Homo sapiens: one gene and its partners. The protein of the gene in region 3 purifies or fractionates together with the protein of the main gene of each other region. This does not show direct contact. Each region holds a gene or a part of one and is shown on either strand. Other genes may lie near its edges. The genes, in order: SRP54, SFXN1, SLC28A2, DDX46, DNAAF8, SRSF11 and LUC7L3.

Evidence for each region.
Region 1: the proteins of SLC28A2 (region 3) and SRP54 purify together in Homo sapiens (affinity purification with mass spectrometry; one large-scale study listed by BioGRID and IntAct). This does not show direct contact.
Region 2: the proteins of SLC28A2 (region 3) and SFXN1 purify together in Homo sapiens (affinity purification with mass spectrometry; one large-scale study listed by BioGRID and IntAct). This does not show direct contact.
Region 4: the proteins of SLC28A2 (region 3) and DDX46 purify together in Homo sapiens (affinity purification with mass spectrometry; one large-scale study listed by BioGRID and IntAct). This does not show direct contact.
Region 5: the proteins of SLC28A2 (region 3) and DNAAF8 purify together in Homo sapiens (affinity purification with mass spectrometry; one large-scale study listed by BioGRID and IntAct). This does not show direct contact.
Region 6: the proteins of SLC28A2 (region 3) and SRSF11 purify together in Homo sapiens (affinity purification with mass spectrometry; one large-scale study listed by BioGRID and IntAct). This does not show direct contact.
Region 7: the proteins of SLC28A2 (region 3) and LUC7L3 purify together in Homo sapiens (affinity purification with mass spectrometry; one large-scale study listed by BioGRID and IntAct). This does not show direct contact.

What each region holds. Positions count from the first base shown.
Region 1 is NC_000014.9:35,010,492-35,013,991, reverse strand, and holds part of SRP54 (signal recognition particle subunit SRP54), read right to left. Parts: intron 2,484-3,500; coding exon 2,333-2,483; intron 647-2,332; coding exon 498-646; intron 191-497; coding exon 90-190; intron 1-89. UniProt on the Homo sapiens protein: Component of the signal recognition particle (SRP) complex, a ribonucleoprotein complex that mediates the cotranslational targeting of secretory and membrane proteins to the endoplasmic reticulum (ER).
Region 2 is NC_000005.10:175,513,060-175,516,559, forward strand, and holds part of SFXN1 (sideroflexin-1), read left to right. Parts: intron 1-403; coding exon 404-531; coding exon of another isoform or gene 532-536; exon of another isoform or gene 537-677; intron 678-3,500. UniProt on the Homo sapiens protein: Amino acid transporter importing serine, an essential substrate of the mitochondrial branch of the one-carbon pathway, into mitochondria.
Region 3 is NC_000015.10:45,250,745-45,255,033, forward strand, and holds the start of SLC28A2 (sodium/nucleoside cotransporter 2), read left to right. Parts: upstream 1-1,489; 5' UTR 1,490-1,534; intron 1,535-2,455; 5' UTR 2,456-2,471; coding exon 2,472-2,552; intron 2,553-2,687; coding exon 2,688-2,776; intron 2,777-3,121; exon of another isoform or gene 3,122-3,190; intron 3,191-4,289.
Region 4 is NC_000005.10:134,828,200-134,831,621, forward strand, and holds the end of DDX46 (probable ATP-dependent RNA helicase DDX46), read left to right. Parts: intron 1-459; coding exon 460-507; 3' UTR 508-2,922; downstream 2,923-3,422. UniProt on the Homo sapiens protein: Component of the 17S U2 SnRNP complex of the spliceosome, a large ribonucleoprotein complex that removes introns from transcribed pre-mRNAs.
Region 5 is NC_000016.10:4,747,217-4,749,896, forward strand, and holds the end of DNAAF8 (dynein axonemal assembly factor 8), read left to right. Parts: intron 1-126; coding exon 127-409; 3' UTR 410-418; intron 419-1,022; exon of another isoform or gene 1,023-1,508; 3' UTR 1,509-2,180; downstream 2,181-2,680. UniProt on the Homo sapiens protein: In cyliated cells, dynein axonemal particle-specific protein required for deployment of ODA to the axoneme. Interacts with outer dynein arm (ODA) subunits.
Region 6 is NC_000001.11:70,238,380-70,241,879, reverse strand, and holds part of SRSF11 (serine/arginine-rich splicing factor 11), read right to left. Parts: intron 2,442-3,500; coding exon 2,360-2,441; intron 1-2,359. UniProt on the Homo sapiens protein: May function in pre-mRNA splicing.
Region 7 is NC_000017.11:50,722,603-50,726,102, reverse strand, and holds part of LUC7L3 (luc7-like protein 3), read right to left. Parts: intron 1-3,500. UniProt on the Homo sapiens protein: Binds cAMP regulatory element DNA sequence. May play a role in RNA splicing.

The DNA of each region.
Region 1 (3,500 bases), on a different chromosome or scaffold from region 3:
TTAGTGAGGACAGAATTAAAATCCTATTTTGTCCTAAAGATACATCGTATTTCTTGGAGATTTTTCTATATCCCCACCACTGTACATACCAAGAAGTTTGCTAATAAAAGGCTGTGTTTTGAAAGGTTCAAAGTCATCTATATGTTCCCCTGTACCAATGAAAATAATCGGACTTTTTGTGGCAGCGACTCTGGAAAAAAAAAGAAAATATAAAATAACCTCAAAAGAACCCCACAAATTTCCAGCAGATCTGAAATTCGAAGTGAATCCGCCTCCAAAGCTAATTAGACAAAGGTACAAAACTCAAGTTTCATTTCACAAGTTATAATAGACCTATATCAGACAGGCTCCAAAATTGTTTCTATTTAAACTTTCTTTATAAACCATATTAGGCTCACTATTGAAACATATTTTAAATGATCAATATGAAAGCTATAAACACATATCCTTCCCCATATAATCCCAAGACAGAGGACAACAGTATCAATGATACTTACGCACTGAGTGCACCACCTCCTTTTGCATGGCCATCAAGTTTTGTCACTATTACTGAGGCTACATCTACTTTATCTTTAAAAGCCTTAGCCTGGGCTTCACAAGCCTGCCCAATGGAGGCATCCATCACATAAACAATGTTATCAGGTTGCTAGAAAGTTTAAATAGAAAAGATACTTTAGAAAAGATTTTTATTGATCCTAAGCAAATGTCATCATTAGAAGCTATAAAACAATATTTAGAGCCAGGTGCAGTGGCTCATGCCTGTAATCCCAGCACTTTGGGAGGCCGAGCCAGGTGGATCACCTGAGATAGTTCAAGACCAGCCTGGCCAACATGGTGAAAACCCCGTCTCTACTAAAAATACAAAAATTAGCATACAAAAATTAGCCAGGCATGGTGGCGAGTGCCTGTAATCCCAGCTACTTGAGAGGCTCAGGCAGGAGAATCACTTGAACCCGGGAGGCAGAGGTTGCAGTCAGCTGAGATCATGCCACTGCACTCCAGCCTGGGCGACAAGAGTGAAACTCCATCTCAAAAAAAAAAAAAAAAAAACTACAACATTTACACTATAAATAATTATTCAATCCATAAATATTTGTTGAAGTACTATGTATTATCAGGTACCATCTAGGTCATGAGAACAAAAAGGTAAATGAGAAAATATTTGTCCTAAGAAACTTGCATTCTAGTCAGAGGACATATATAATAAATAGATAAACATTTCAGATGTATAACAACGAAAATGGGATACAGAGTATCAGTTTTGAAGTATGGGAGGCATTTTCTAGTAAGGTAGTCAGGGAAGGCCTCTCTGGACCTAATGTTTGAGCTGAGGCCTGAATAAAGAGGAAAAGGTTATATGCAAAGATTTGAAAGAATGGCAATCTAGGCAAAAAAAGTACAAAGGCAAATCAAAGTAGAAGAGTGTATACTGAAAACGGATAAAATATACTTGAGGCTACTTCCCTTAGATCTGCTCAACTTGGTCAAAATAACAACATAACTGAAAAGAAACTTATTAGCATTAACCACAAACCAAAGAATTACTGCTAACACTCCAATGTCAAGACGTGGGTTCCTAATAATATATGCTGCAGATATCTATAAACTGCTTCTCCTCCCCCAAATTGTTTCCATCACACTTTTAAAGAGACACAAAATGATAATTAATATTTTTTAAAGTATTTAAAAATCTAAGTATTTCCAACTGAATTTTTAAAAAGGAAATTCAACAGAAACTAAAGGCTAATTACTAATTTTTTTTTTTTTTTTTTTTGGAGATGGAGTTTTGCTCTTGTTGCCCAGGCTGGAGTGCAATGGCGTGATCTTGGCTCACTGCAACCTCTGCCTCCCGGGTTCAAGCTATTCTCCTGCCTCAGCTCCCAGGTAGCTGGGATTACAGGCACCCACCACCATGCCCAGATAATTTTTGTATTTTTAGTAGAGACGGAGTTTCACCATGTTGGCCAGGCTGATCTTGAACTCCTGACCTTGTGATCCATCCGCCCTGGCCTCCCAAAGTGCTGGGATTATAGATGTGAGCCACCATACCCGGCCTAATTACTAATTTTTAAATGTTTTCTTATGCATACTAATAGGATGACTGAGAAAGGAAATTACTTTTTCATACTTATGAAAATTTTATATTTAATGGAGAACAAAAATAATGAAATTAAGTCCCTACCACATAGATATAGGTGCCCAAAACAAAAATAAATTACTGGGGATCTGCCTCACAGGCAAAGAATAATTTATATTGGTCATATACTCAACCTGGTTTTATAATTAAATTAACCAAAGTCCTAATAATAGTGTTACATTGAAAGCTACTTACTATAGCATTAGCAACTTGAAGCATTTCTTCAAACAAAGAGTCTTCTTGTTTGTGGCGGCCACTTGTATCAACAATAATAATTTCAAAATTTTCATTTTTAAATTTCTCTACTCCTTCAGAAGCAATGATGACAGGATCCATTTCTGTATAGCTATATAACATGGACAAATGATTTAACAAAACGACAAAACTTCCAAATACTACTAATTCGGAAAGTTAATTTACCTATAATCTATTTTGAAAAAGCCAAAATGACCCCAATTTCAATTTAGAAGAGGAAAATCTATAAAGTATTAAATACAGAATCTACTTCTAAAAAAGCATGAAGCATTATCCAATTTTCCAATTCCAAAACCCAGTATGATTCTACTGCATGTCTTTTTTGAATGAATTGTGTCTCCTTCAAATTTATTTTTTATATCTTCTTTAATAATTGAACTCATGCTCACAGTGTTTCACACATTTTTCCATTTAACATCCATTTGGAAGCATTTTATAAAACCAGTAGATATTCTTGTAACAAGCCTGAGCAATATAGTGAGATTCCATCTCTACAAAAAAAAAAAACTAGCTGGCATAGTGGAATATGCCTATAGTCCCAGCCACTTGGGAGACTGAGGCAGGAGGACCACTTGAGTCCATGAGTTCGACACTGCAGTGAGCTTATGATCATGCAACTGCACTCCAACTTGGGCAACAGAGCAAGACCATGGCATGTCTCTTTAAAAATTAACACGGGTGAAAAAAGAAAAAATATTTCTGTAACACATAACCTTGAGGTTATACAGCATTCTATCAGATGGCTGTATCATTTATTAAATAACGCCCTACTATTAGACATTTGACGTTTTTCCAATTTTTTTTTTAATTTTTATGTATTTATTTATTTATTTTTGAGACAAAGTTTCACTCTGTTGCCCAGGCTGGAGTGCAGTGGTGCGATCTCGGCTCACTGCCACTTCTGCCTCCTGGGTTCAAGGGATTCTCGTGCCTCAGCCTCCCAAGTGGCTAGGATTACAGGCGCCTGCCACCAGGCCTGGCTAATTTTTGTATTTTCAGTAAAGACGGGGTTTCACCATGTTGGTCAGGATGGTCTCAAACTTCTGACCTCATGATATGCCCGCCTTGGCCTCCCAAAATGCTGGGATCACATGCATGAGCCATCATG
Region 2 (3,500 bases), on a different chromosome or scaffold from region 3:
GGAGGCCGAGGCGAGTGGATCACCTGAGGTCAGGAGTTCAAGACCAGCCTGGCCAACATGGCAAAACCCCGTCTCTACTAAAAATACAAAAATTGGCCGGCACACTGTCACATGCCTGTAATTCTAGCTACTCGGGAGGCTGAGGCAGGAGAATCGCTTTGAACCCGGGAGGCAGAGGTTGCAGTCAGTGGAGATAGCCACCACTACACTCCAGCCTGGGCAACAGAGTGAGACTGTAAAAAAAAAAAAAAAAAAAAAAAAAAAACAGATGTGTCAGTACCAAAAATGACACTTGAGTGGGTATTTGAATTAAGTAGAGGGTTGATCTTTCCCAACATAGTACTATTTCAGGACGTTTATTGAAGGCATTGGTGGAGCTCTCTGTATGTGTTTTGCTCTGCAGGGAACTCAAAGTTGGCATTCCCGTCACGGATGAGAATGGGAACCGCTTGGGGGAGTCGGCGAACGCTGCGAAACAAGCCATCACGCAAGTTGTCGTGTCCAGGATTCTCATGGCAGCCCCTGGCATGGGTTAGCAGGACTTTGTCATTTATTCCATAAATACAGGTTGAACCAGCGTTCACGGATCCGTGAACCAGAAAACAAACACATATATCACACCTCTTAGTGGAAATTGCCTTCCACTGGGGGTGGCAGAAAATAAACAAGTAAATAAAGTATGTAGTATGTGCAGTGGTGATGAGGGCAAGGGGGCAATGGGGCTAGGGCGTGTGGGTAGGGCAGCCGGGGAAGAGCACTGGGTGGAGGTGTGGGAGTGAGCCAAGTGGGTATCGGTGATGAATATTCTGGCAGAGGGAACCACAGGCAGGAGTTTGCCTGGTGTGTTACAGGCATTACGGGTGCAGGTGCAGCTGGGGCACAGTGGGAGGGGTGGGGAGCAGTAGGAAGGGAGTCAGGAGGCCACAGACGGCAGAGCGTGGATGGCAGCCCTGGCGTTTCACACCTGGGTTTTAGTCTGAGAGGTAAGAAGCCAGGCAGGGTTTTGCATACAGGAGCAGCACAGTCTGACTTAGGTTTTATCTGTGTGACTCTGGGTGGTGGGTTGAGAATAGGCTGAAGGAGAATGAGAATATTCAGTGGAGGCTGTGCGGGGAGGCTGCCTCAGTAATCCAGGCAAGAGGCAGTGATGGGCTGGACCAGGGCCATACAGTGGGAATTTGACCAGAAGGAACTGATGGAGCAAATTGGAATGGTTAGAGCAGCTACTGATAAAATGTGTGCCAAGCAACTGCTCAGGTTTCCCTATAGGGACTGGGGTCAGAATGACCAAAAATAGAAAGTCTACATTGTATTTAGTTCTGCTGAGAATCTCTAGTCCACCCTAAGGCTGCTTAGAGCTACCTTCAGACCAGGGGCCTAAAGAAAGTTCTCAGACTGAGAAATCAGAGGGCCTGGCAGTTAGAGTGCTCTTCACAGAAAAAAAACAGAAATTAGTATGTTTAATTTTCATCATCTAAACTGAATGCAAACAGCGCTTGGCAATTAAAATGAAGCTCTCCAATGAAGTATACTTCATCAGCTGCTGTCAAGTCATCCATTGATACTGTTTTGCGGTTTTTAAATTCCTTTTGTCACTGTGACTGCTCATCAGCAGGCAAGGAAGAGCAGGCAACAAAAGTTGAAAAGTGCATGAAGGAAAACTTTGAGGAATATGATATTCACATTCCAGCAAATTGGGGGAAAACTGCTATTATCTGGTTTAACACAGGAGTGCCTTGGTGCCCTGCCTGAGGCTAATGTGTTCTGTAGGGGTGGCTGCACAGCCACAGTCCTGAAACATGGGAAAGCATCTCCTGAGTCCAGGGACCAGCACGTTTGTCACTAACCTAAAAGGAGGCTATGGAGCCCACCCCGGTGTTCCTACTGAGCCCTGATTTCCAGATTTGCTGAAATCGAGGTTGCGGCTCCAGCTTCTGCCCTGGGTTTGGTTTGTTGTTGTCGTCGTTGTTTTTGAGACAGGATATTGCCCTGTCCCTCAGGCTGGAGTGCAGTTGCTGTGATCATGGCTCACTGCAGCCTCAACTTCCCTGAGCTCAGGTGATCCTCCTACCTCAGCTTCCCCAGTAGCTGGGACTACAGGCGTGCGCCACCACACCCAGCTGATTTTTGTATATTTTGTAGAAACAGGGTTTTGGTATGTTGCCCAATTAGTCTAGAACTCCTGGGCTCAAATGATCCACCCACCCCGAATGCTAGGTATACAGTTGTGAACCACCATGTCCGGCCCTGGGTTTGCTTTTGATTGTGGTCTTTTCTGTTTTGAATTGCCTTACTCCTCTTAGAGTTCAGCCAGTCCAGACGGACAAATCCATTTCTAGTGATTTGGTTATTTTAAACACTATTTAGTCCCCAGAGAAGAAATACAATCTTTCTGTCCTAGTGCAATTTATAAGAGTAATTGACATATTGAAATAGTGGATATGACAGTTTAGCCTGATAAAAGTTGTCAGCAAATGAACGAATGCTGTCCACCGCATACCCAGTGTTTTACATGCAGTATTGTCTCCAATTTCCTCCATTTTATAGAAAAAGAAAACAGAAAGCTGAGGCTCAGAGAAGTTAGGTAACTTCTCCAGGGTCACCCAGCTAGCAAGTGGTCTAGCCCAGCGGTCCCAAACCTTTTTAGCACCAGGGACCCATTTCATGGAAGACAATTTTTTCATGGACCAGGGGTCAGGGGGATGGTTTCAGGATGATTCAAGCACGTTAAATGTATTGTGTACTTTAGTTCTATTATTATTACATTGTAACATATAATGAAATAATTAGACAAGTCACCATCATGTTGAATCAGTGGGAGCCCTGAGCTTGTTTTCCTGCAGCTAGACAGTCCCGTCTGGGGGTGATGGGAGACAGTGACAGATCATCAGGCACTAGATTCTCATAAGGAGCGGGCAACCTAGATCCCTTGTATGTGCAGTTCTCAATGGAGTTCAGGCTCCTGTGAGAATGTAATGCGGTCGCTGACCTGACAGGAGGCAGAGCTCAGGCGTAATGCAAGCAATGGGGAGCAGCTGTAAATACAGCTAAAGCTTCATTCACTTGCCCACTGCCCTCCTCCTGCTGGGCAGCCCTATTCCTAACAGGCCAGAGATCCATACCAGTCCATGGCCCAGGGGTTGGGGCCCCTGGTCTAGCCTGTACGGAAGCAGTTTCTGCCTGACTCCAAGGCAGGATTCTTTACACCATCCTCCCTGCCTTGTGCCCTTTGTTTTATTAATATAGGAAGAAAAAGTTCCTGATATTTTTATTTTTGTCTACTTAAACCTAAAAGTAAAGTTCTTTTCAAGATTATAAAACTTTCTGGCTGGCAGAGGATGTGATATTACTGTTCAAAAATTTAGAAAATCAGAACAGTTTTCAATCTAATGAATTCAAATGTAATAATTTAAAGAATTGCTACAAACTGTTTTTACTGTGACAGTGGAAATAGCCTAAAAGTGACAGAAGCTTTCTGTCAAATGGTTGAAAAAAAAAGT
Region 3 (4,289 bases):
TGTGGTGGTACACGCCTGTGGTCCCAGCTACTCCAGAGGCTGAGATGGGAGGATCACCTGAGCCCAGAAGTTAGAGGCTGCAATGAGCCATGATAGTGCCATTGCACTCTAGTCTGGGTGACAGAGCAAGACCTTGTCTAAGGAAAAAAAAAAAAAAAAGACAGAGAGCTTGTGCTTGAGGAGATCACTGTCTAGTAGGCGATGGTATGTGCTCTATAGGGTTCAGCAACAACATGGTGCAATCAGAGTGCAGGGAGGGGTCCTAAGTTTTATCCAGAGGGCGTCATAGGAAGCTTTCTTTCTTTCTTTCCAGGCCAGGATAAGTGTTACCAGCTCTGTAAAGTCTTTCTCTCCCTCTTTTTTTTTTTTTTTTTTTTTTTTGAGATGGAGTCTCGCTCACCCAGGCTGGAGTGCAGTGGCATGATCATGGCTCACTGCAACCTCTGCCTCCTGGGTTCAAATGATTCTCCTGCCTCAGCCTCCTGAGTAGCTGAGATTACAAGCCTGCACCACCATGCCCGGATAATTTTTGTATTTTTAGTAGAGATGGAGTTTCGCCATGTTGGCCAGGGTGGTCTCGAGCGCCTGACCTCAAATGATCCGCCTGCCTCTGCCTCCCAGTGTGCTGGGATTACAAGCGTGATTCACCGCGCTCGACCTGCAAAGCCTTTCTTGACACATCCGTCTTTCCTCACTGATCTGTTCGTTTTTTGATGGCAGAGACCTTGTCTCACTCATTTTTATGTCCTCACACGGAAAACGGTGGCTGGCTAATAGTGGTTACTCAATAAGTATTTGTTGAATGGATTAATAAAATAATTCCTAGCAGTCATTTGGCATGGAATCATGTACAGTCGTGCTGTTTATTGTTTTCTAGGGCATGTCTTTCCAGCACAAAATGATGGTAAATTTTCTGGGTGCAGAGACGGCTCTTACTGTATTTTACAGGCTACCCAGTGCCTAGTCCAGTGGTGGGTAATGCTTACAGGAATGTACCTGTTAGAAGTTCTTACAGAATTCTTTTGTTTTGTTTTGTTTTCTGACAGGGTCTCACTCTGTCGCCCAGGCTGGAGTGCAGTGGCGCAATCACAGCTCACTGCAACCTCCACCTCCAGAGGCTCAAGGGATCCTTCCACCTCCGCCTGCCGAGTAACTGGAACCACAGTCGTGTGCCACCGCGCCCAGCTAATTTTTGTATTTGTTGTAGAGATGTGGTTTCGCCATGTTATCCTGGCTGGTCTCAAGCGATCCGCCCGTCTCGGCCTCCCGAAGTGCTGGGATTACGGGCGGGCGCCACCTCTGCATAAGTCTTAGGCCTGCAAAACAGTCTTAAAAACATATAATATTTAACTTGAGAGGTGCAGTCCTCCTCTACATTGAGGGCAGGCTCAGCGAAGGAGGGCCCAAGACATAAAACTAACCAATGGCAGGAAAGCCCCCATGCCCCACCCAAGCTGCCCCTCCTCCCTCGCAGCTGAGCTTTTCTTTCAGTCCTTCACTGAGGAGCCAGAGGGAATCAATTCCACAAGCTGGGGTAAGTAAAGGTGTTTGGGGGAGGGCAGGTGCCTAATTTACAAATTTTTAAAGAGATCATATTTAAACTAAATGCAGGTAGTTTTGTGCCTAGTCAGGAAGGCCCTAATTTACACAATATAAGTTGGTTATGTGTGTTTAATGAAATTATACTTCAAATGCTTGAAGAGATCACATTTTCAAAAGCAATTCCATGGGGAAGGGAATTTTCTGCAAAGTAAATAAATATCTCAGAATGAACTTATATTCTAATTGTGAATGTCCATGTATTAAATTTGCTTATTCTGAGGCCCAAATGTTTGCTTATTTTGTTTAAAAACTTTACTTGGGATCATTAACATTCATACTAATTATTTTAAATGTAAGTTTTGTTAATTTCACTGATGAGTTCTCTCTGGGGCATAAAAAACCAATTCTTATGCTACATTATAGTCAGGAATTTGAAGGCCTGTAAATTGTTATCTGTTCAGCAATACTTTAGGGTCCGGGTCTTCCCAACTGCCTTCCTCCCTGTTTCCTTCTTACTCAGCAAGCTCAGTGGGGCCTCCCTGGGGCTAAAAGGAGTAGTTACCCTGTGACTCTTTCTTTGAGGGTCCAAGTAGGAACCTTTATAGCCCAGATCCTGGGGCCCTGGGCGGCCCACTGATTCATTTCAATTCCACTGCCTTTCATTTCTCTTCTCCTATCTTACTGCCTCTTCTTTAGCTATTCACAAGAGGAAATAGGATTTTATTTTTCATTATTTATTATATAAAAATTACACATCCAATCTTCTCAATTCTCAGTTCTTAAAGAAATCAACTAAGCCTTCAAAGACTTTTAGTTTTGCGTTTTCCATGGGTAACTGGTCCTAAAAATTCTCCCCATCCCCACAGAACAGAATGACCAATCTTTCAGGCTTGGCCCTGAATTTGTTTTTCAGTTGAGGAGAACAGGAGATGGAGAAAGCAAGTGGAAGACAGTCCATTGCTCTGTCCACAGTGGAGACTGGCACAGTGAACCCGGGGCTGGAGCTCATGGTAATCACCAGTTTAGTTTCTCTCTGCAGAGCTGTGGGCTGCTGCATGGGCTCCTGTAGGGTATTTGGCTGCTCTCAATCCCCATCATCCCTGGCAGGGCTCCATGACTGATCCCAATGCTCTCTGTGCTTGTAGGAAAAAGAAGTAGAGCCTGAGGGAAGCAAGAGGACTGACGCACAAGGACACAGCCTGGGGGATGGACTGGGCCCTTCCACTTACCAGAGGTACTGGTGTTTTGGAATCTTGTTCAGTTAGGAAAGGATCTAGGGTGGGCTGCCCCTTCAGGCAGCTTGTGGTATTATCACAACCGCTCCACCTTACCATGTGTACATATATATATGTATCTTACATAATTAATTAACTTAAACATGTGCCATAAACTCCATAAAAAAAAAGGAGTTCAGCAGTATCAGTGTTGGTTGGACTGAAAATAAAAATAATAACAATGGTAATAATGGCTAACAGATTTTGAGTGTATACTTACTATTTTGCAGATTGCTTTATGTTATACATTTATTTTCATTACAACAGGTAGGTATTCATTTTAATCCCTTTAGAAATTAATTTACCATATCATTAAAAAAACAGTAGCTCTTCTGGAATACTCAGATTTGGGAATGGTGGAGAGGAAGGGAAACCTGGGGAGAAAACACAGAAGGACTTATTATAAGGATAATAAAGACAGTAAAAAAGATCTTAGAAGTCAAAAGAGAAGAGTCTCAAGAATGAAGAAGGTACAGTCCACAGTGCTATGTGAACAGGGGTCTAGGAAGGAGGAGTGAGAAAAATCTTTGAATTTGTTTGTGGATCTGGTCCCAGAAGTAATGTCAAAGAAAATTGTTTGAGTAAAATAGATCATATGGAAAGAAGCAATGTTCCATGGTCTGGAAAACAGTGGGTATTTATAAAAGAGTGCAGAAGTCATACACTAAAAGCTGAGAAGAGGACATTGGATAGCTTCTAAAGGGAATACGGTCATGAGCTACATAATGATGTTTCAGTCAATGATGGACCGCATTATACAATGGTGTATAATCATGTATATCAACGGTGTATATCATTACACAACGGTGGTCCCATAAAATTATAATACTGTATTTTTACTGTGCCTTTTCTATGTTTAGATATGTTTAGATACACAAATACTTACCATTGTGCTATAGTTGCCTACAGTATTAAGTACAGAAACATGCTGAACAGATTTGCAGCCTAAGAATAATAGGATCCACCATATAGCTTGGATGTGTCGTAAGCTATACCATCTAGGTTTGCATAAGTACACTGTAAGATGTTAGCATAATTATGAAATTGACTAATGTTGAATTTATCAGAATGTATCCCTGTTGTTAAGTAACACATGACTATATATGGAGATGATTCAGAGCAGCTTCCAAACAAAAGGTTATTTTTATATTTTCTTCTCTTTATTTTTGAAAGTTACCTCAGTGACTTCTTAAAATTTTTAATTGTTTTATTCACAATTTGCTTCTCTCTAAAAATTTTTATATTATCATGTTTTATATATACTGAATTGACAGTAAATTCTTTGTAAGTTTTTCATGCTTACATGATATTTCATATTTTACTTAGCAGTGTGGCCGTTAATCATGTGAGTCACATTGCTTGTGTCTATATTTGAACAGTGGTATGCTAGTAAATGTTTAAGAATTGACTCTCCACCGGGCTAGTGGCTCATGCCTGTAATCCCAGCACTTCGTGAGGCTGAGGTGAGAGGAT
Region 4 (3,422 bases), on a different chromosome or scaffold from region 3:
TAATTCTGAGAGCTTTTCTAAAATTCCCCTCACAGAGCATTCCTTTTTTTGTTGGGGGGTGGGGGTGGTTAGAAGTTTAATGAAAAGTGGGTTCACAAAACAAGAGGGAAAAAGTAAAACAGCTGTTAAATCATGTGCTTAATACTATTTCACCAAGGAGTGGTCGAAAAGAATCTTGTGCCCATAGATGCTACCACCATTAGGTTGATTCAAAACATAGTTGTTAAGGAATAGTTGAGTGAACAGAGAATTCATTAGTTATTGAATAGTTTTTCCTTTCTCAATGCAGTAATAGTAACATTTAAAATTTTAAATAACCAATAGTTTTATAAGTTGGCAAAGGAAATGATCTTAAATATTTCCTTTTGGGTTTGTTTGGTTGGTTGGTTGGTTCGTTTTTTTTTTTTGTTTTTTTTGTTTTGCTTTCTCTGATGACATATCTTTTATTTCCTATTACAGCAAAATTCATACCAACCAACAAATAAAGGAAGATACAAAGTCTTATAGACATCCGGAAAAAAGATTTTTACCTGTGCTGGTCTATGATGTATGTGGCAGTTGCTGTCTGCAGTTTACAATGTATTGTAAATGAAGATTTTTTAAATTCTATCTTGCTGATTTTTTTTAAATATAAGAAACTGGTACTTGGTAAAGAAATCTGTCCGTAAGTACCCCCACAATCAGTCAAACTATATTTAAAGCCAGCCTGTTTTCAGAGTATGATGTCCTTTAATGTAAACTCAAATATCAATATTTTAAATGTCCGGATAATATTCTAGAGGTTTAAAAAATGGAAATATTTGAACTTTCTATTGAAGACAATAAAGTACACAAGTCGTTAAGGGGCTATTCACTTTATCCTGTACTTTCAATGAAATTGTGATCATTTCCTAAGAAAAGGTAAAATTCACTATCATATTTTGTGTCCCCACCTTGATGTTACATGACTCTGGAACAATATGAACTGGATTTAAGAATGTTATAATAGAAGTCTTACAAAATGGGTTGAGAGTTTTTGTTTCAATTTTTATCATCATAAATGGGCAAAAAGTAGTTGGACTAATTTCGGTTTTTATACAAGTAAAGATTTAATAGTATAAGGATTTTTTTGCATTTCTTTACACTGAGTGTAAAACTCTACAAAGAGTTATAGTATTTACTACTTTGAGGTTTCCCTCACAACTTCTGGCTCCATACCTAGCCCCTCTTTTATAATCTTCCTTAAAAGAAAGAGTGTAGCCTATAAATACTAAATATGATACCTTTTCCTTCTAGAAAGTGTTTATTTATATATCTATACATGTTGTATGTACAAATATCCTACTACTTTTAATCTGATTTTTCTTCAGGATTATTGAGTAGGTTGTGAATTTTCTTTCTTAAAAATTGTAAAACATAATGGTACCCAAGTTTTAAACTTAGATGTGCTTCATCTTAGTGAAATTTAATTCACAAGGAATCATAAATTGTGTTTTTGAGGCTGGGCGCAGTGACTCACACCTGTATCCCAGCAATTTGGGAGGCCGAGGTGGGCAGATCACTTGAGGTCAGGAGTTCAAGACTAGCCTGGTCAACATGGTGAAACCCTGTCTCTACTAAAAATACAAAAATTAGTCGGCATGGTGGTGGGTGGCTGTAATCCCAGCTACTCAGGAGGCTGAGGCAGAAGAATCTGAGCCAAGATAACACCATTGCACTCCAGCCTGGGCGACAGAGTGAGACTATCTCAAAAATAAATAAATAAATAAATAAATAGTATTTTTGAGCCTTCAAGATACAGTTCCTGAATATTCTAATTTAAATTGTTATAATTGGATTACCTAATATTCTTTTCAAGACTCCTGATGTATTAACTTCATGTTATTGTCACTTTTCAAAAAAGGAATTTTTTTCAGGAGTTAAATAAAGTCAGTCTTTTATATCCAAGGGTTTCAAACCCACAGATTAAACCAACCACAGATCAAAAATAGAAAAAAAAAAAAAAAGAAAAAAAGAATGTAAAATTTTAAAAATACAGTTTAACAGCTGTAAAAGTTTTACTATAACATTTACATTGTGTTAGGTATTTTAAGTAATTTAAAGGTTACAGTATACAGGCGGTTAAAGTATACAGGAGGATGTGCATCGGTTATATGCATATAGCAAGCCATTTCATATAAGAGGCTTGAACATCCATGGATTTTGGTATAGAGGAGGGGTTTAAGGGGTGTCCTGCAATCAGTCCCCCTCTCATACCAAAGGATGACTGTATATTTCTTAAATGAAGAGACTTTCATTCTTTAAATATTATTGACTTACAGTTTAAAAATAAATAAATAAAAGCATACTATAGTTGTAAAAACAAATAATTTTAATAGTATATTCAGTGGCTGAAGTGATAGGGAGTATTAATCATTATTTCTTCAGTATAAAGTTATTCTTCCTGAAAAAGTAAGATATACCTGGGAAATATTCTTGGATCCTTCACACATCCACTTAATTTCTTGAAGGAAGAAAACAGACAAAAGACATGTAACAACAGAAACAAATAAACCACTTACTGTAAAATTTCAGAAATTGTGGGCTCATTCCCTCCCTCTAGTTTATTTATTTGCTCATCTTTATCACCTAATGGTAGTTTGTTTTCTTTGGTAGAGTATATGGCAGTCCCACATCGATGATAATTGGTGCTCCCTTCATCCAACTGGATCACTTTGAGATTCAGTTTTACATCATTTTAGCATTTTGTTTGTATATCAGTTGTGATGAGCCACTGATAAAATTTTGTTCTAAAATGAAACATATTACTTTGTTAGTACATTTTTTAGTGTCACACTGACTTTTAAAATTTGAATGATATATAGACTTTGTTTTTTTAATGCAATATGAATATTTGCTCATGTTTTCTAAATTCCTTATAAAATAAAATTAATTCGAATTCAATCTGCACTTTCTTAAAATTATCTTTCCTCAATGCTTTTTCTTTCTTCTGTTTCTCTAATTTTGTTTATGTTGGTGAGAGAAGTATTATACTCTCTATTTTTATTTAAAAAATTCTAGCAACTTATTACCCAAAATATTTATAATTCTGTTCCAAAAATGTCTTCCTGAAGAAGGCTCTTAAGTCTTTTATGTTCATTGTATTTAGCATAAGAGAAACATAGGTGAAATAATAGGTTCATTTACCAGTTGGGGTTTTGCCACAGTGACACTCTTACAAAATGGATATGTAGGCTGGGTGCGGTGGCTCATGCCTGTAATCCCAGCACTTTGGGAGGCTGAGGCAGGCAGATCACCTGGGGTCAGGAGCTCAGGACCAGTCTGACCAACACGGAGAGACCCAGTCTCTACTAAAAATACAAAATTAGCCAGGTGTGGTGGCACATGCCTGTAATCCCAGCTACTCGGGAGGCTGAGGCAGGCGAATCGCTTGAACCCGGGAG
Region 5 (2,680 bases), on a different chromosome or scaffold from region 3:
TGCCTGAATTGCATTCTTGCTCTGAAATGGGAGCTGGGCTCATCTGCTTTTCTCCTGTTTCAGTAAGGAGGGCTGGGAGGGGCGGCCCCCACGGGGTTGAGTGAATTTGGTCTCATTGTGTCACAGGACCTGTACCGGGAAAAGCCAGCTTCTCCAGCAGCTCAGGGCCTTTCAGAAGGGGACAGCCCAGCCCGAGCTGCCTGCCAGCAAGGGGCCCGCGGGTGGGAGGGCTCAGGCCCCTGAAGACACAGCTGGATCACGAACTGGGAGGAAGCAACACATGAAGCTCTGTGCCAAGGGGCAGAGCGCCCAGGCTCGACTCCCAAGAGGCAGGCCCAGAGCCCTGGGGGATGTTCCTGAGCCAGGGGCAGCCAGGGAGGCCCTGATGCCTCCTCTGGAGCAACTATAGCTGCCTCAGGTAGTGGGATCCCAGGAGTGGGCAGGGGCGGGCTGACTTGCCATGGACCCTGGGCCCCGGTGTCCCCTTGTTGTTCCTGCATTTCCACTAGCAGGGGCATTCCAGAGGCAGGGACCCTCAGACTTTGGACTGTTGCCCACCCTGTTAGAGCTCAGTCACAGGTGCATGAACTTAGAGGAAGGATGCAGATACAAATCTGTATGTAACCTGTGACAACAGCTTTGGGATAAAGGGGCCTGGTCCTCTGAGGGAGATGGGCAGGGACAGCAGGAGGACGGGGTGCTGCTCTCTGCGGGACTCTGAGGCTCTTCATCTTTCTCCAGTTCTGCATTTTTTTAAACAGGCATCTATTATTTCCATCAATAAGGTCTTTTTAAAAACCAAGTAAAACGTATTTAGAGGATTTTAGGGTTGAAAGAGACCTAAGCCTTATTTTCTGGCTTCCTGCATACTTGCTATTTTGGGCACCTAAATTAACACACGACACACACATGCCTACCCACACAGATCTAATACACGTGGTTTTTTCTCTTTTCGAGACGCAGCAGCTGGGACTACAGGTGCACACCACCATGTCCAGCTAATTTTTTTTTTTTTTTTTTTTGTAGAGATGGGGTCTCACGGTGTTGCCCAGGTTGGTCTGGAACTCCTCTCAATCCTCCTGCCTAGGCCTTCCACAGTGCTGGGATTATAGCACTGTGAGCTGCCAGCCTGGCTTTTAATGAACTTTTTGAAAGAGGAGTAACGAGAATTTGCTTTCTCTTTCTCTTCTTTACCTAAGATAGAAAGGCACACATAGATTCTCAAGGCCTTTGACCTTTATGAATCTAGACAGAATACTGGAAACCCCTGGAAATGCTGTCCTGTGTAGAATGGAGCAGCGGCCTCACTTGTTGATCACCAGCAAAAACTGGGGACATCTGCTTGCCCCCTGCCAAGACCCGGCCCCTCCACAGGACAAGCCTGGTCTTCCTGGGTCCTGTTCCTTTGCCAGCACCGTCTTGCAGCCCCGTCTTCACGGGATGCTTTTGTAACTGCTGTGATCAGCCCTGACCTGGGCACCTGTTTGTCTCCCCAACCTTGTCTCCAGGATGTGTCCTGCTGTCTGCCCCGTGGGAAGAGCAGAGAAATCATCACCACCTTGGGCCCCACGGTGCCACGGGCTCAGGCAGCACAGTAGGGCGCCGGGCCTTTGGGACAGTGTCCCAGCTTCCCCTGGGGTTCACCCCTGGCTGCCAGGCCACTGAGGATGGGCAGGGGTCTCTTCTCATCAAGCCTTGTACCAGGCAAAAGACAGGCCCTGCTTGGCCGTGGTCACTGGCCGCCAAGATCAGGGCTACAGATGTCTGCTCTCTGGACCCCACGTGATCTGGCCACTGGGGACCCCCACCCGACCCCACTCCCAATGATGAGGGGCATTTTCATTGCAAGTCAAAGGCAAGACAGGCTTCCATAAAGTCCCAGGAGGTCCCTCCTGTAGGGCACAAGGCCAGGCTGCCTCCCAGCCCCCAGGCCCTCTCCCACCTACAGAGACCCTCCCCTGCCCCCTCCACTCCGGGGCCTGTGCCGCCAGAACCGGGCTCTGCCCCCATACGCTGCCCTCGCAGCCTGGCGGCCTCCGCTGTGGCTGCCTAGCTGTCAAGAGCAAAGGCTTTTTTTTTCTTCAACCCCATTTTCTTCCATTTCTCCCACCTTTTTAATGCCAGTAACCTCACTGAGAATGTTTTACAGTGATGGAAAATAAACTCTGTTCCAAGTTCAACTCTGAATTACTGTGTCTGTCAAGGCAAGGGGAGTGAGGTAGGAAGTCAGACCTGCGTCCAAAGCTGGCTCTGCCACCTGGGCAAGGTTTTCACGCTCCCAGTGCCCAGTTCCTCCACCCACAGAAGGAGAATCATGGCCGGGCGCGGTGGCTCACGCCTGTAATCCCAGCACTTTGGGAGGCCGAGGTGGGTGGATCACAAGGTCGGGAGTTCAAGACCAGCCTGACCAACATGGAGAAACCCCATCTCTACTAAAAATACAAAAATTAGCCAGGCGTAGTGGTGCGCACCTGTAATCCCAGCTACTCAGGAGGCTGAGGCAGGAGAATCACTTGAACCTGGGAGGTGGAGGTTGTGGTGAGCCAAGATCGTGCCTTGCACTCCAGCCTGGGTAATGAAGTGAGACTGTGTCTCAAAACAAAACAAAAAAAGGAGACTAATGGGAGTCCCCCCTCACTGGACTGCATGAGATAACATCACAGCACACGCAGGCACCTGG
Region 6 (3,500 bases), on a different chromosome or scaffold from region 3:
CCTTTTTCCTAAGAGTTTGGTAAAAGGAAACACATATAAATTGTAGTAATCATGAGGTATATCCTATTGCAGAGGTTAAACTAAACTATGAGAGCACTGTCATGGAAGATTAAGACTGCAAGCATTGTATCTTGAAGAAAGAAAAAGGAGTTCCTCAAAGCGGAAATGGAAGATGTGGAAAAGCATTAGGCAGAAAGGATCATGAGCAGAAACATGAAGACATAAAGAAAATGGTATGTTGAGGCAATTAGTCCTGTAACTTTTGGAGTGGCAAATGACACGTGTAAAAAGATAAACCAGACGGAATAGTAAAGAACCCTGAAAGCCATTCTAAGGTTTTATGTATCACCTTATCAAGGCAATAAGGAACTTCTCAGTATCTGTGACATGATCTGTATTTGGGTTTCTGAAAGACAACTCTAAGAATAAGACAGTGGGATAAGGTGGGTGACAGGGAATAAACAGACATAGCATACAGGATAACCCCTGTAATACTTCAAGAAATGACTTAAAATAAGAAAATGATATTAAAAGATAAAAACAGAGTGAAAAGATCATCTCTGAGACAGAAATGTGACTTTTTAGATATTTTATGATATAAGTGCTTTTAATAGAGACGTGACAAAGTCTAGGATTCAAGTCACACTGCTCTTTCAAAAATCCTGACAATAAATAGGAGAAATGGTTTTATCTAACCCTTGGTAAAAACTAAGGGGTAACGGACACTAAGAAAAGGCAGACAACTGACAGAACTAGGTTCCAGAAGAGATGAAGCCAGGAGTGAAGGTTTAAGAGTCAAGTGGTGAATGGCCGGGCATGGTGGCTCACACCTGTAATCCCAGCACTTTGGGAGGCCAAGGTGGGTGGATCACCTGAGGTCGCGGGTTTGAGATGAGCCTGACCAACATGGAAAAACCCAGTCTCTACTAAAAATACAAAATCAGCCAGGCATGGTGGCACACACCTGTAATCCCAGCTATTCGGGAGGCTGAGGCAGAATTGCTTGAACTCAGGAGGCGGAAGTTGTGGTGAGCCAAGATCGTGCCATTGCACTCCAGGCTGGGCAACAAGAGTGAGACTCCGTCTCAAAAAAAAAAAAAAAAAAAAAAGTCCAGTGATGGAGGGGTATGTAAAGTGAAGCTGAAACTGGCTGAAGTAAATAACCACAACTGGAATATCCTAGTTCTGAATGTCAATCCTAAAGGGTTCTGACTAGAAGAACTAGGATGCAACTAGGCCAATTAGGATTGAGTTTGGAAATTAAGAAAATCGAAGAATGGCTGAAATAGTTGGTGAATAACCTAGAGCAATGGCTTTTATATTGTCGTTTGCACAACTGTGGATGCTCTAAGACCCTTTTATGGGGTCCATAAGGTCAAAATTATTTTCAAAGTAATAACAAATTATTGCCTTTTCCACTGTGTTGACGTTTGCACCAATGTCACAAAAGCCATAGTGGGTAAAAATACTGACTCTTCAACACAAATCAAGGTAGGGGCTATTGAACTGCCCTAGGAGTCACTCACTATCTTCTTCACTGGCATTTCTGTATGCACTTGCAGTAAAAGAAAAAAATAATGCCACTTTTATAAAGATGTCTTTGATGAAGCAGTAAAGTTAATTTTATTAAATCCCCCTTCAGTACTATTAATATAGTAGCAGAATTAAATCTAGTCTCTTGAGTAATATTCTGTGTGATGAAATGGAAAGTATGCATAAATCACTTCTGATGCTTATGAAGTATAATGGCTGTATTAAGGAAGACACCTGTGTTGAGTTATGAGCTGAACTAACTGCTTTTTCATTATCACCTTTGAGAATCTAGAAACTATGATTAATTAGACTTGGGTATTTGGCAGACAATTTTTTGAAAAATAAATGAAGTCTATTATATAAGGAAAATAGATGAATCTGTTGCCAATGATAAAAATCTGAGAAAATTAAATTTTGGAAAATGACTCCATTGTTGTGAGCATGCCAGATTCCTAGTACTTGCATTTTACTGATCTGATCTAAGGTGATATTACCAGATGTCACTTTTTGACACTAGATAACAAATACAAGTCAGTATTTGGAAACTTGTATAATTCAATGAATCAATTATTTTTCATTTTGTTGCTCTAGTTCCAATGCTTTCCTACCACCTCTGAATTTTTGGGGGTTTTAAAGCATAAATCATCTATTTCGTCTGTCGCTTTTCTTACTTTTTACATGTGTGAACAGTCATTCACACATTCTAACAGCAGAGGTTACTAAAACACTTTAACCAGAGGATAACAGATTAACAGCAAATTAAAAAAGATGTGACATATATAAATTATCTTTGTCTAAGGTATAATTGACTAAAAAGCAATCTAACCTGTGTCTAGAAGATGAGGGAGTCCTCCTCCTCCTAGAACGTGATCTTGATCTTGAATGCCTTCTTTTTTCTTCTTTCTTATCTATATTTAAAAGAAAAGGAACCTGCATTTAGAAGTTATTAAATAGGGGCCAGACGCAGTGGCTCATGCCTGTAATCACAGCACTATGAGAGGCTGAAGTGGGAGCAACACTTCAGTCCAGGAGTTCAAGACCAGCCTGGGCAATATAGTGAGGCCTCATCTCTACAAAAAATACAAAAATTAGCTGGGCATGGCGGTGTGTGCCTGTGGTCCCAGGTACTTGGGGAGGCTGAGCTGGGAGGATTGCTTGAGCCTGGAGATGGACGGTGCAGTGAGCTGTGATTGCACCACTGCACTCCAGCCTCGGCAACAGAGTGAGACCCCTCAAAAACAAAAACAAGCAAACAAAAAAACACATCAAATAGGAAGATTATTCCCTTTCAGAAGTTATTCTAATAATTTTTCACCTTAGTTTTCAGCTTTTACATACAACCCTTGAATGTCACAAGTAACCATTTTATAATCACGATTTTGAAGCTTACTGAAATACTATAAATTGCAAATCATCCAAGCTTTTGGTAGATCCAAATTAGACTTCTAATTCTCAGCTAGCTAAAGGTTCCTTTGCCTATTTTACTTGCCAGACTTAAGAGGCTGTGAAGTGTTTTCTGTAAAGCAGTCTATAAAGAGGGTAAATTTCTCATTCTCTGGCTCTGATTTACTCTTGACAAGGTTCTAAATGAGGGGTCCCCTTTCCTTTCCTTGATTCTTCACAGACTCAATATTTGGCCCCCAAATGCAGAAAGTCATGATTCACTCACTGATTTTAGTCCACTTCTGTGACAGAATCAGATTTTAGTAAGCTAGCTCGCTTCCTATTATCTGCTCATCACTCCTCTTCCCTACCAATTTTCAATTGTGTAAATATAGAAAGGAAATCTAGAACTACACATAAGAAATTCCTTAACTGGGGACATAACAAGAGAAATAAAGTCATTGTATTCTACATTCACTGACTATCATCAAAGTGAGATTGAGTTTCTTTTACATTTAAGTCATTTCATTAATAGGGTTCAATTTATTGTGAATGTCATTATAATAAATTCATAAAAATATTGG
Region 7 (3,500 bases), on a different chromosome or scaffold from region 3:
TTTTACTGTGATATGCAATTTACTTTAGACACCAACTGCTCATGCAGAGATTATCAAGAGTCACAGGTCATAGGGCATTTTAAGTGGAGCCTGGCAACACTTGAGCTCACTGTAATAGCAACAGGTGGCTACAAAATTATTACAGTATTACAGTATGTACTATAGTTAATTTTATGCAGTTATTACTCAAGCTTTACTTTCTCTGGACTGCTAGTGGCACCATGTACTGTGTGCATAAGTTTTTATAAAGTTTAACTTTTTATGATTCGTATGTATTTTGTGGTAGGAAAATGATAAACTAGTATATACATCTATTTTATGTATTTGTGATGTACTTATCTTTTCTTAAATTTTAAAAATATTTCTAAGCTATGTGATTCGTCTTCAAGTTTTTTCAAATTGTTGCAAATCTCCAAAAAATGTTCCAATATATTTATTGAAAAAACTCCACGTATAAATGGACACACTCAACTCAAACCCGTGTTGTTCAAGGGTCAATTTTACTTTTCCCAATGGTAGGATTTATCATATTCTGTTATGGAAATGCGTTTACATTCAATTGGAATAATCCCCATTGGAAAAAAAAAGTGCATTTACTGTCACCAATACATGATGGCTCTTTAGGACCAAGTGCTGTATCTGTACTATCCTGCTGTTATCTACCTAAGAGCAATACTTTTAATTTTTTTTTTGAAATGGAGTCTTGCTCCTGTCACGCAGGCTGGAATGCAGTGGCGTGATCTCGGCTCACTGCAACCTCCACCTCCCGGGTTCAAGCGATTCTCCTTCCTCAGCCTCCCGAGTAGCTGGGATTACAGGCGTGCGCCACCACACCTGGCTAATTTTTGTATTTTTAGTAGAGACAGGGTTTCGCCATGTTGGCCAGGCTGGTCTCAAACTCCTGAGCTCAGGTGATCCACCCGCCTCAGCCTCGCAAAGTGCTAGGATTACAGGCGTGAGCCACCGCTCCCAGCCGAGCAATACATTTTTGTTGGATAAATGAATACAACAATTTTCCTAACTTACTATAAGAAATGAAGAGAAAGGCTGGGCATGGTGGCTCACCCCTGTAATCCCAGCACTTTGGGAGGCCGAGGGAGGATCACTTGTTGTCAAAAGTTCAAGACCAGCCCGGCAAACATGGTGAAACCCCATCTCTACAACAACACAAAAATTAGTCAGGCATGGTGGCATGCACCTGTAATTCCACCTACTCTGGAGGCTGAGGCAGGAGAATCGCTTGAACCCGGGAGGTGGAGGTTGCAGTGAGCTGAGATCACACCACTGCACTCCAACCTGGGCAACAGAGCAAGACTCCATCTCGGGGGTAAAAAAAAAAAAAAAAAGAGAAAATATTTCATAAAACGAAGAACTGTATTAGCAAAAAAGTCAAATTTACAAACTTAAGCTACCTTCTCCTTTTGTGAGGAAATCAAGGCTAATAACATATATAATGACACACACACACACACACACACACACACACACACAATTTTCCTAAAGCAACCAAAGATTTACGAAATACCTTACTATAATTTTCAGTGATTATGGTATTGTGGTTATTTTATTCTATTTTTTTTTTGAGACAGAGTGTCACTCTGTTGCCCAGGCTGGACTGTGGTGGCACCATCTCGGCTCACTGCAACCTCTGCCTCCTGGGTTGAAAGGATCCTCCTGCCTCAACCTCCAGAGTAGCTGGGATTACAGGAATGCACCACTACGCCCAGCTAATTTTTTTATTTTTTATTAGAGACAGGGTTTCACCATGTTGGCCAGGCTGGTCTCGAACTCCTGGCCTCAAGTGATCTGCCTGCCTTGGCCTCCCAATGTTGAGATTACAGGTGACCCACCATGCCCGGTCGGCTATGTTTTTTTTTTAAAGTCCTTGTATTTTACAGATATACAATGACCGCTTTAAGGTTGACAATAACAGAATTGCTTCAAAATAATGGAAGGGATACAGAGGAAATAATATTGACTATGTGCTAATATTGCTAAATTGGGCATGGGTACATGGGGAGTTCAATTTATTATACTATTCACTCTAATTCTGTATGTTTTGGGAAGAAAAGCAAATAGCAATTACATACACATATAACACATGGACTGCTGGCAATTCTGAGAAGCCAACACTTACTATTTTACTATGGAGTAAGGTAGGAAATGCCAGCCGGGCGCAGTGGCTCACGCCTGTAACCTCAGCACTTTGGGAGACTGAGGCGGACCGATCACTTGAGGTCAGGAGTTCAAGACCAGCCTGGCCAATATGGCAAAACCCTGTCGACTAAAAATACAAAAATTAGCCGGGCGTGGTGGCCCACACCTGCAATCCCAATTACTCGGGACGCTGAGGCCAGGAGGTGGAGGTTGCAGTGAGCCAAGATCATGCCACTACACTCCAGCCTGGGTGACAGAGCTAGACTCTGTCTCAAAAAAAAAAAGGGGGGGGGGCAGGGAGCAGGGTAGAAAATGCTTTTCTATCTTACTCCATAGTAACATAGTAAGTTACTATGAACATTTTGGTGACTCTGAATGAAAACTAGTAAAATACATATTAATAGATGCCATCATGCATTATAATTACTAGTTTTTTGCTTTCAATTTTTGCTCCCAAATTCTGAACATTTTTAAAGCAAAAAGAAAAAGTATACAAGTAAAAAATGTGGACAGAAGCTTTAGCTATTTTTCCTTTTCTAAACAACTTTTCAGTGTCAATGACAGTATCTGCTAACATTCCAAAGATTTTAGAAAAGAACATAGTTCAATTTCCTTCATAAATTATTAAACCTTCATGTTAAACCTTCATGGAAGGAAGGGTAGGCTTGAGTTTGATAAATGGAAGAAAACTCATTTCAGATATTAGAATCAGTGTTAATGATTAAGTAATTTCATTTTCAGGTTGAGATCTAGAATATAAAAACCTCAATTTGAACTACAAAATTTCTGTCTTGCTACATAAAAAATAACAAAACTCCCGATCAGACTTTACAATTTACTACAATCTTCTAATAATATGGCTACTAGTGCCTTCTCTGGCTAACACTGAAATCAAACCCTCACTGAAAGGTACTCACCCTAGGCAGTTAGTTACAATCACATGCTTTCCTCATCACTGTGGTTGTTTAGGATTAACCAAGCAATTGCTTAGTGCAAAAAACCAAAACAATAATCTCAAACAATTGCAAAATACAAATAAACACGGTGGGAGGGTGTACCAATGAATCCATGAAACAGTATTAAAGCCGACTTCACTTTAGCTGCAGTTTCTCAGATCCAGAGGTAGCAATCTACAAAGTTGGAAATGCCTGTAAAAGCACTAGCCCCAGTAAAATACCTTGGTGAAGGTTACATACACACCATTACAAATAAATGGTCGATGATTTTGCATCACAGATGCATCCTTCACTTGAAACTGCGCTTCGCAAGTGCTGCTTGCTCACTTATTACCCATCATGAAAAGGAGAAAAAAGTACAGTATTAGAATCTACTACCAAATTAAT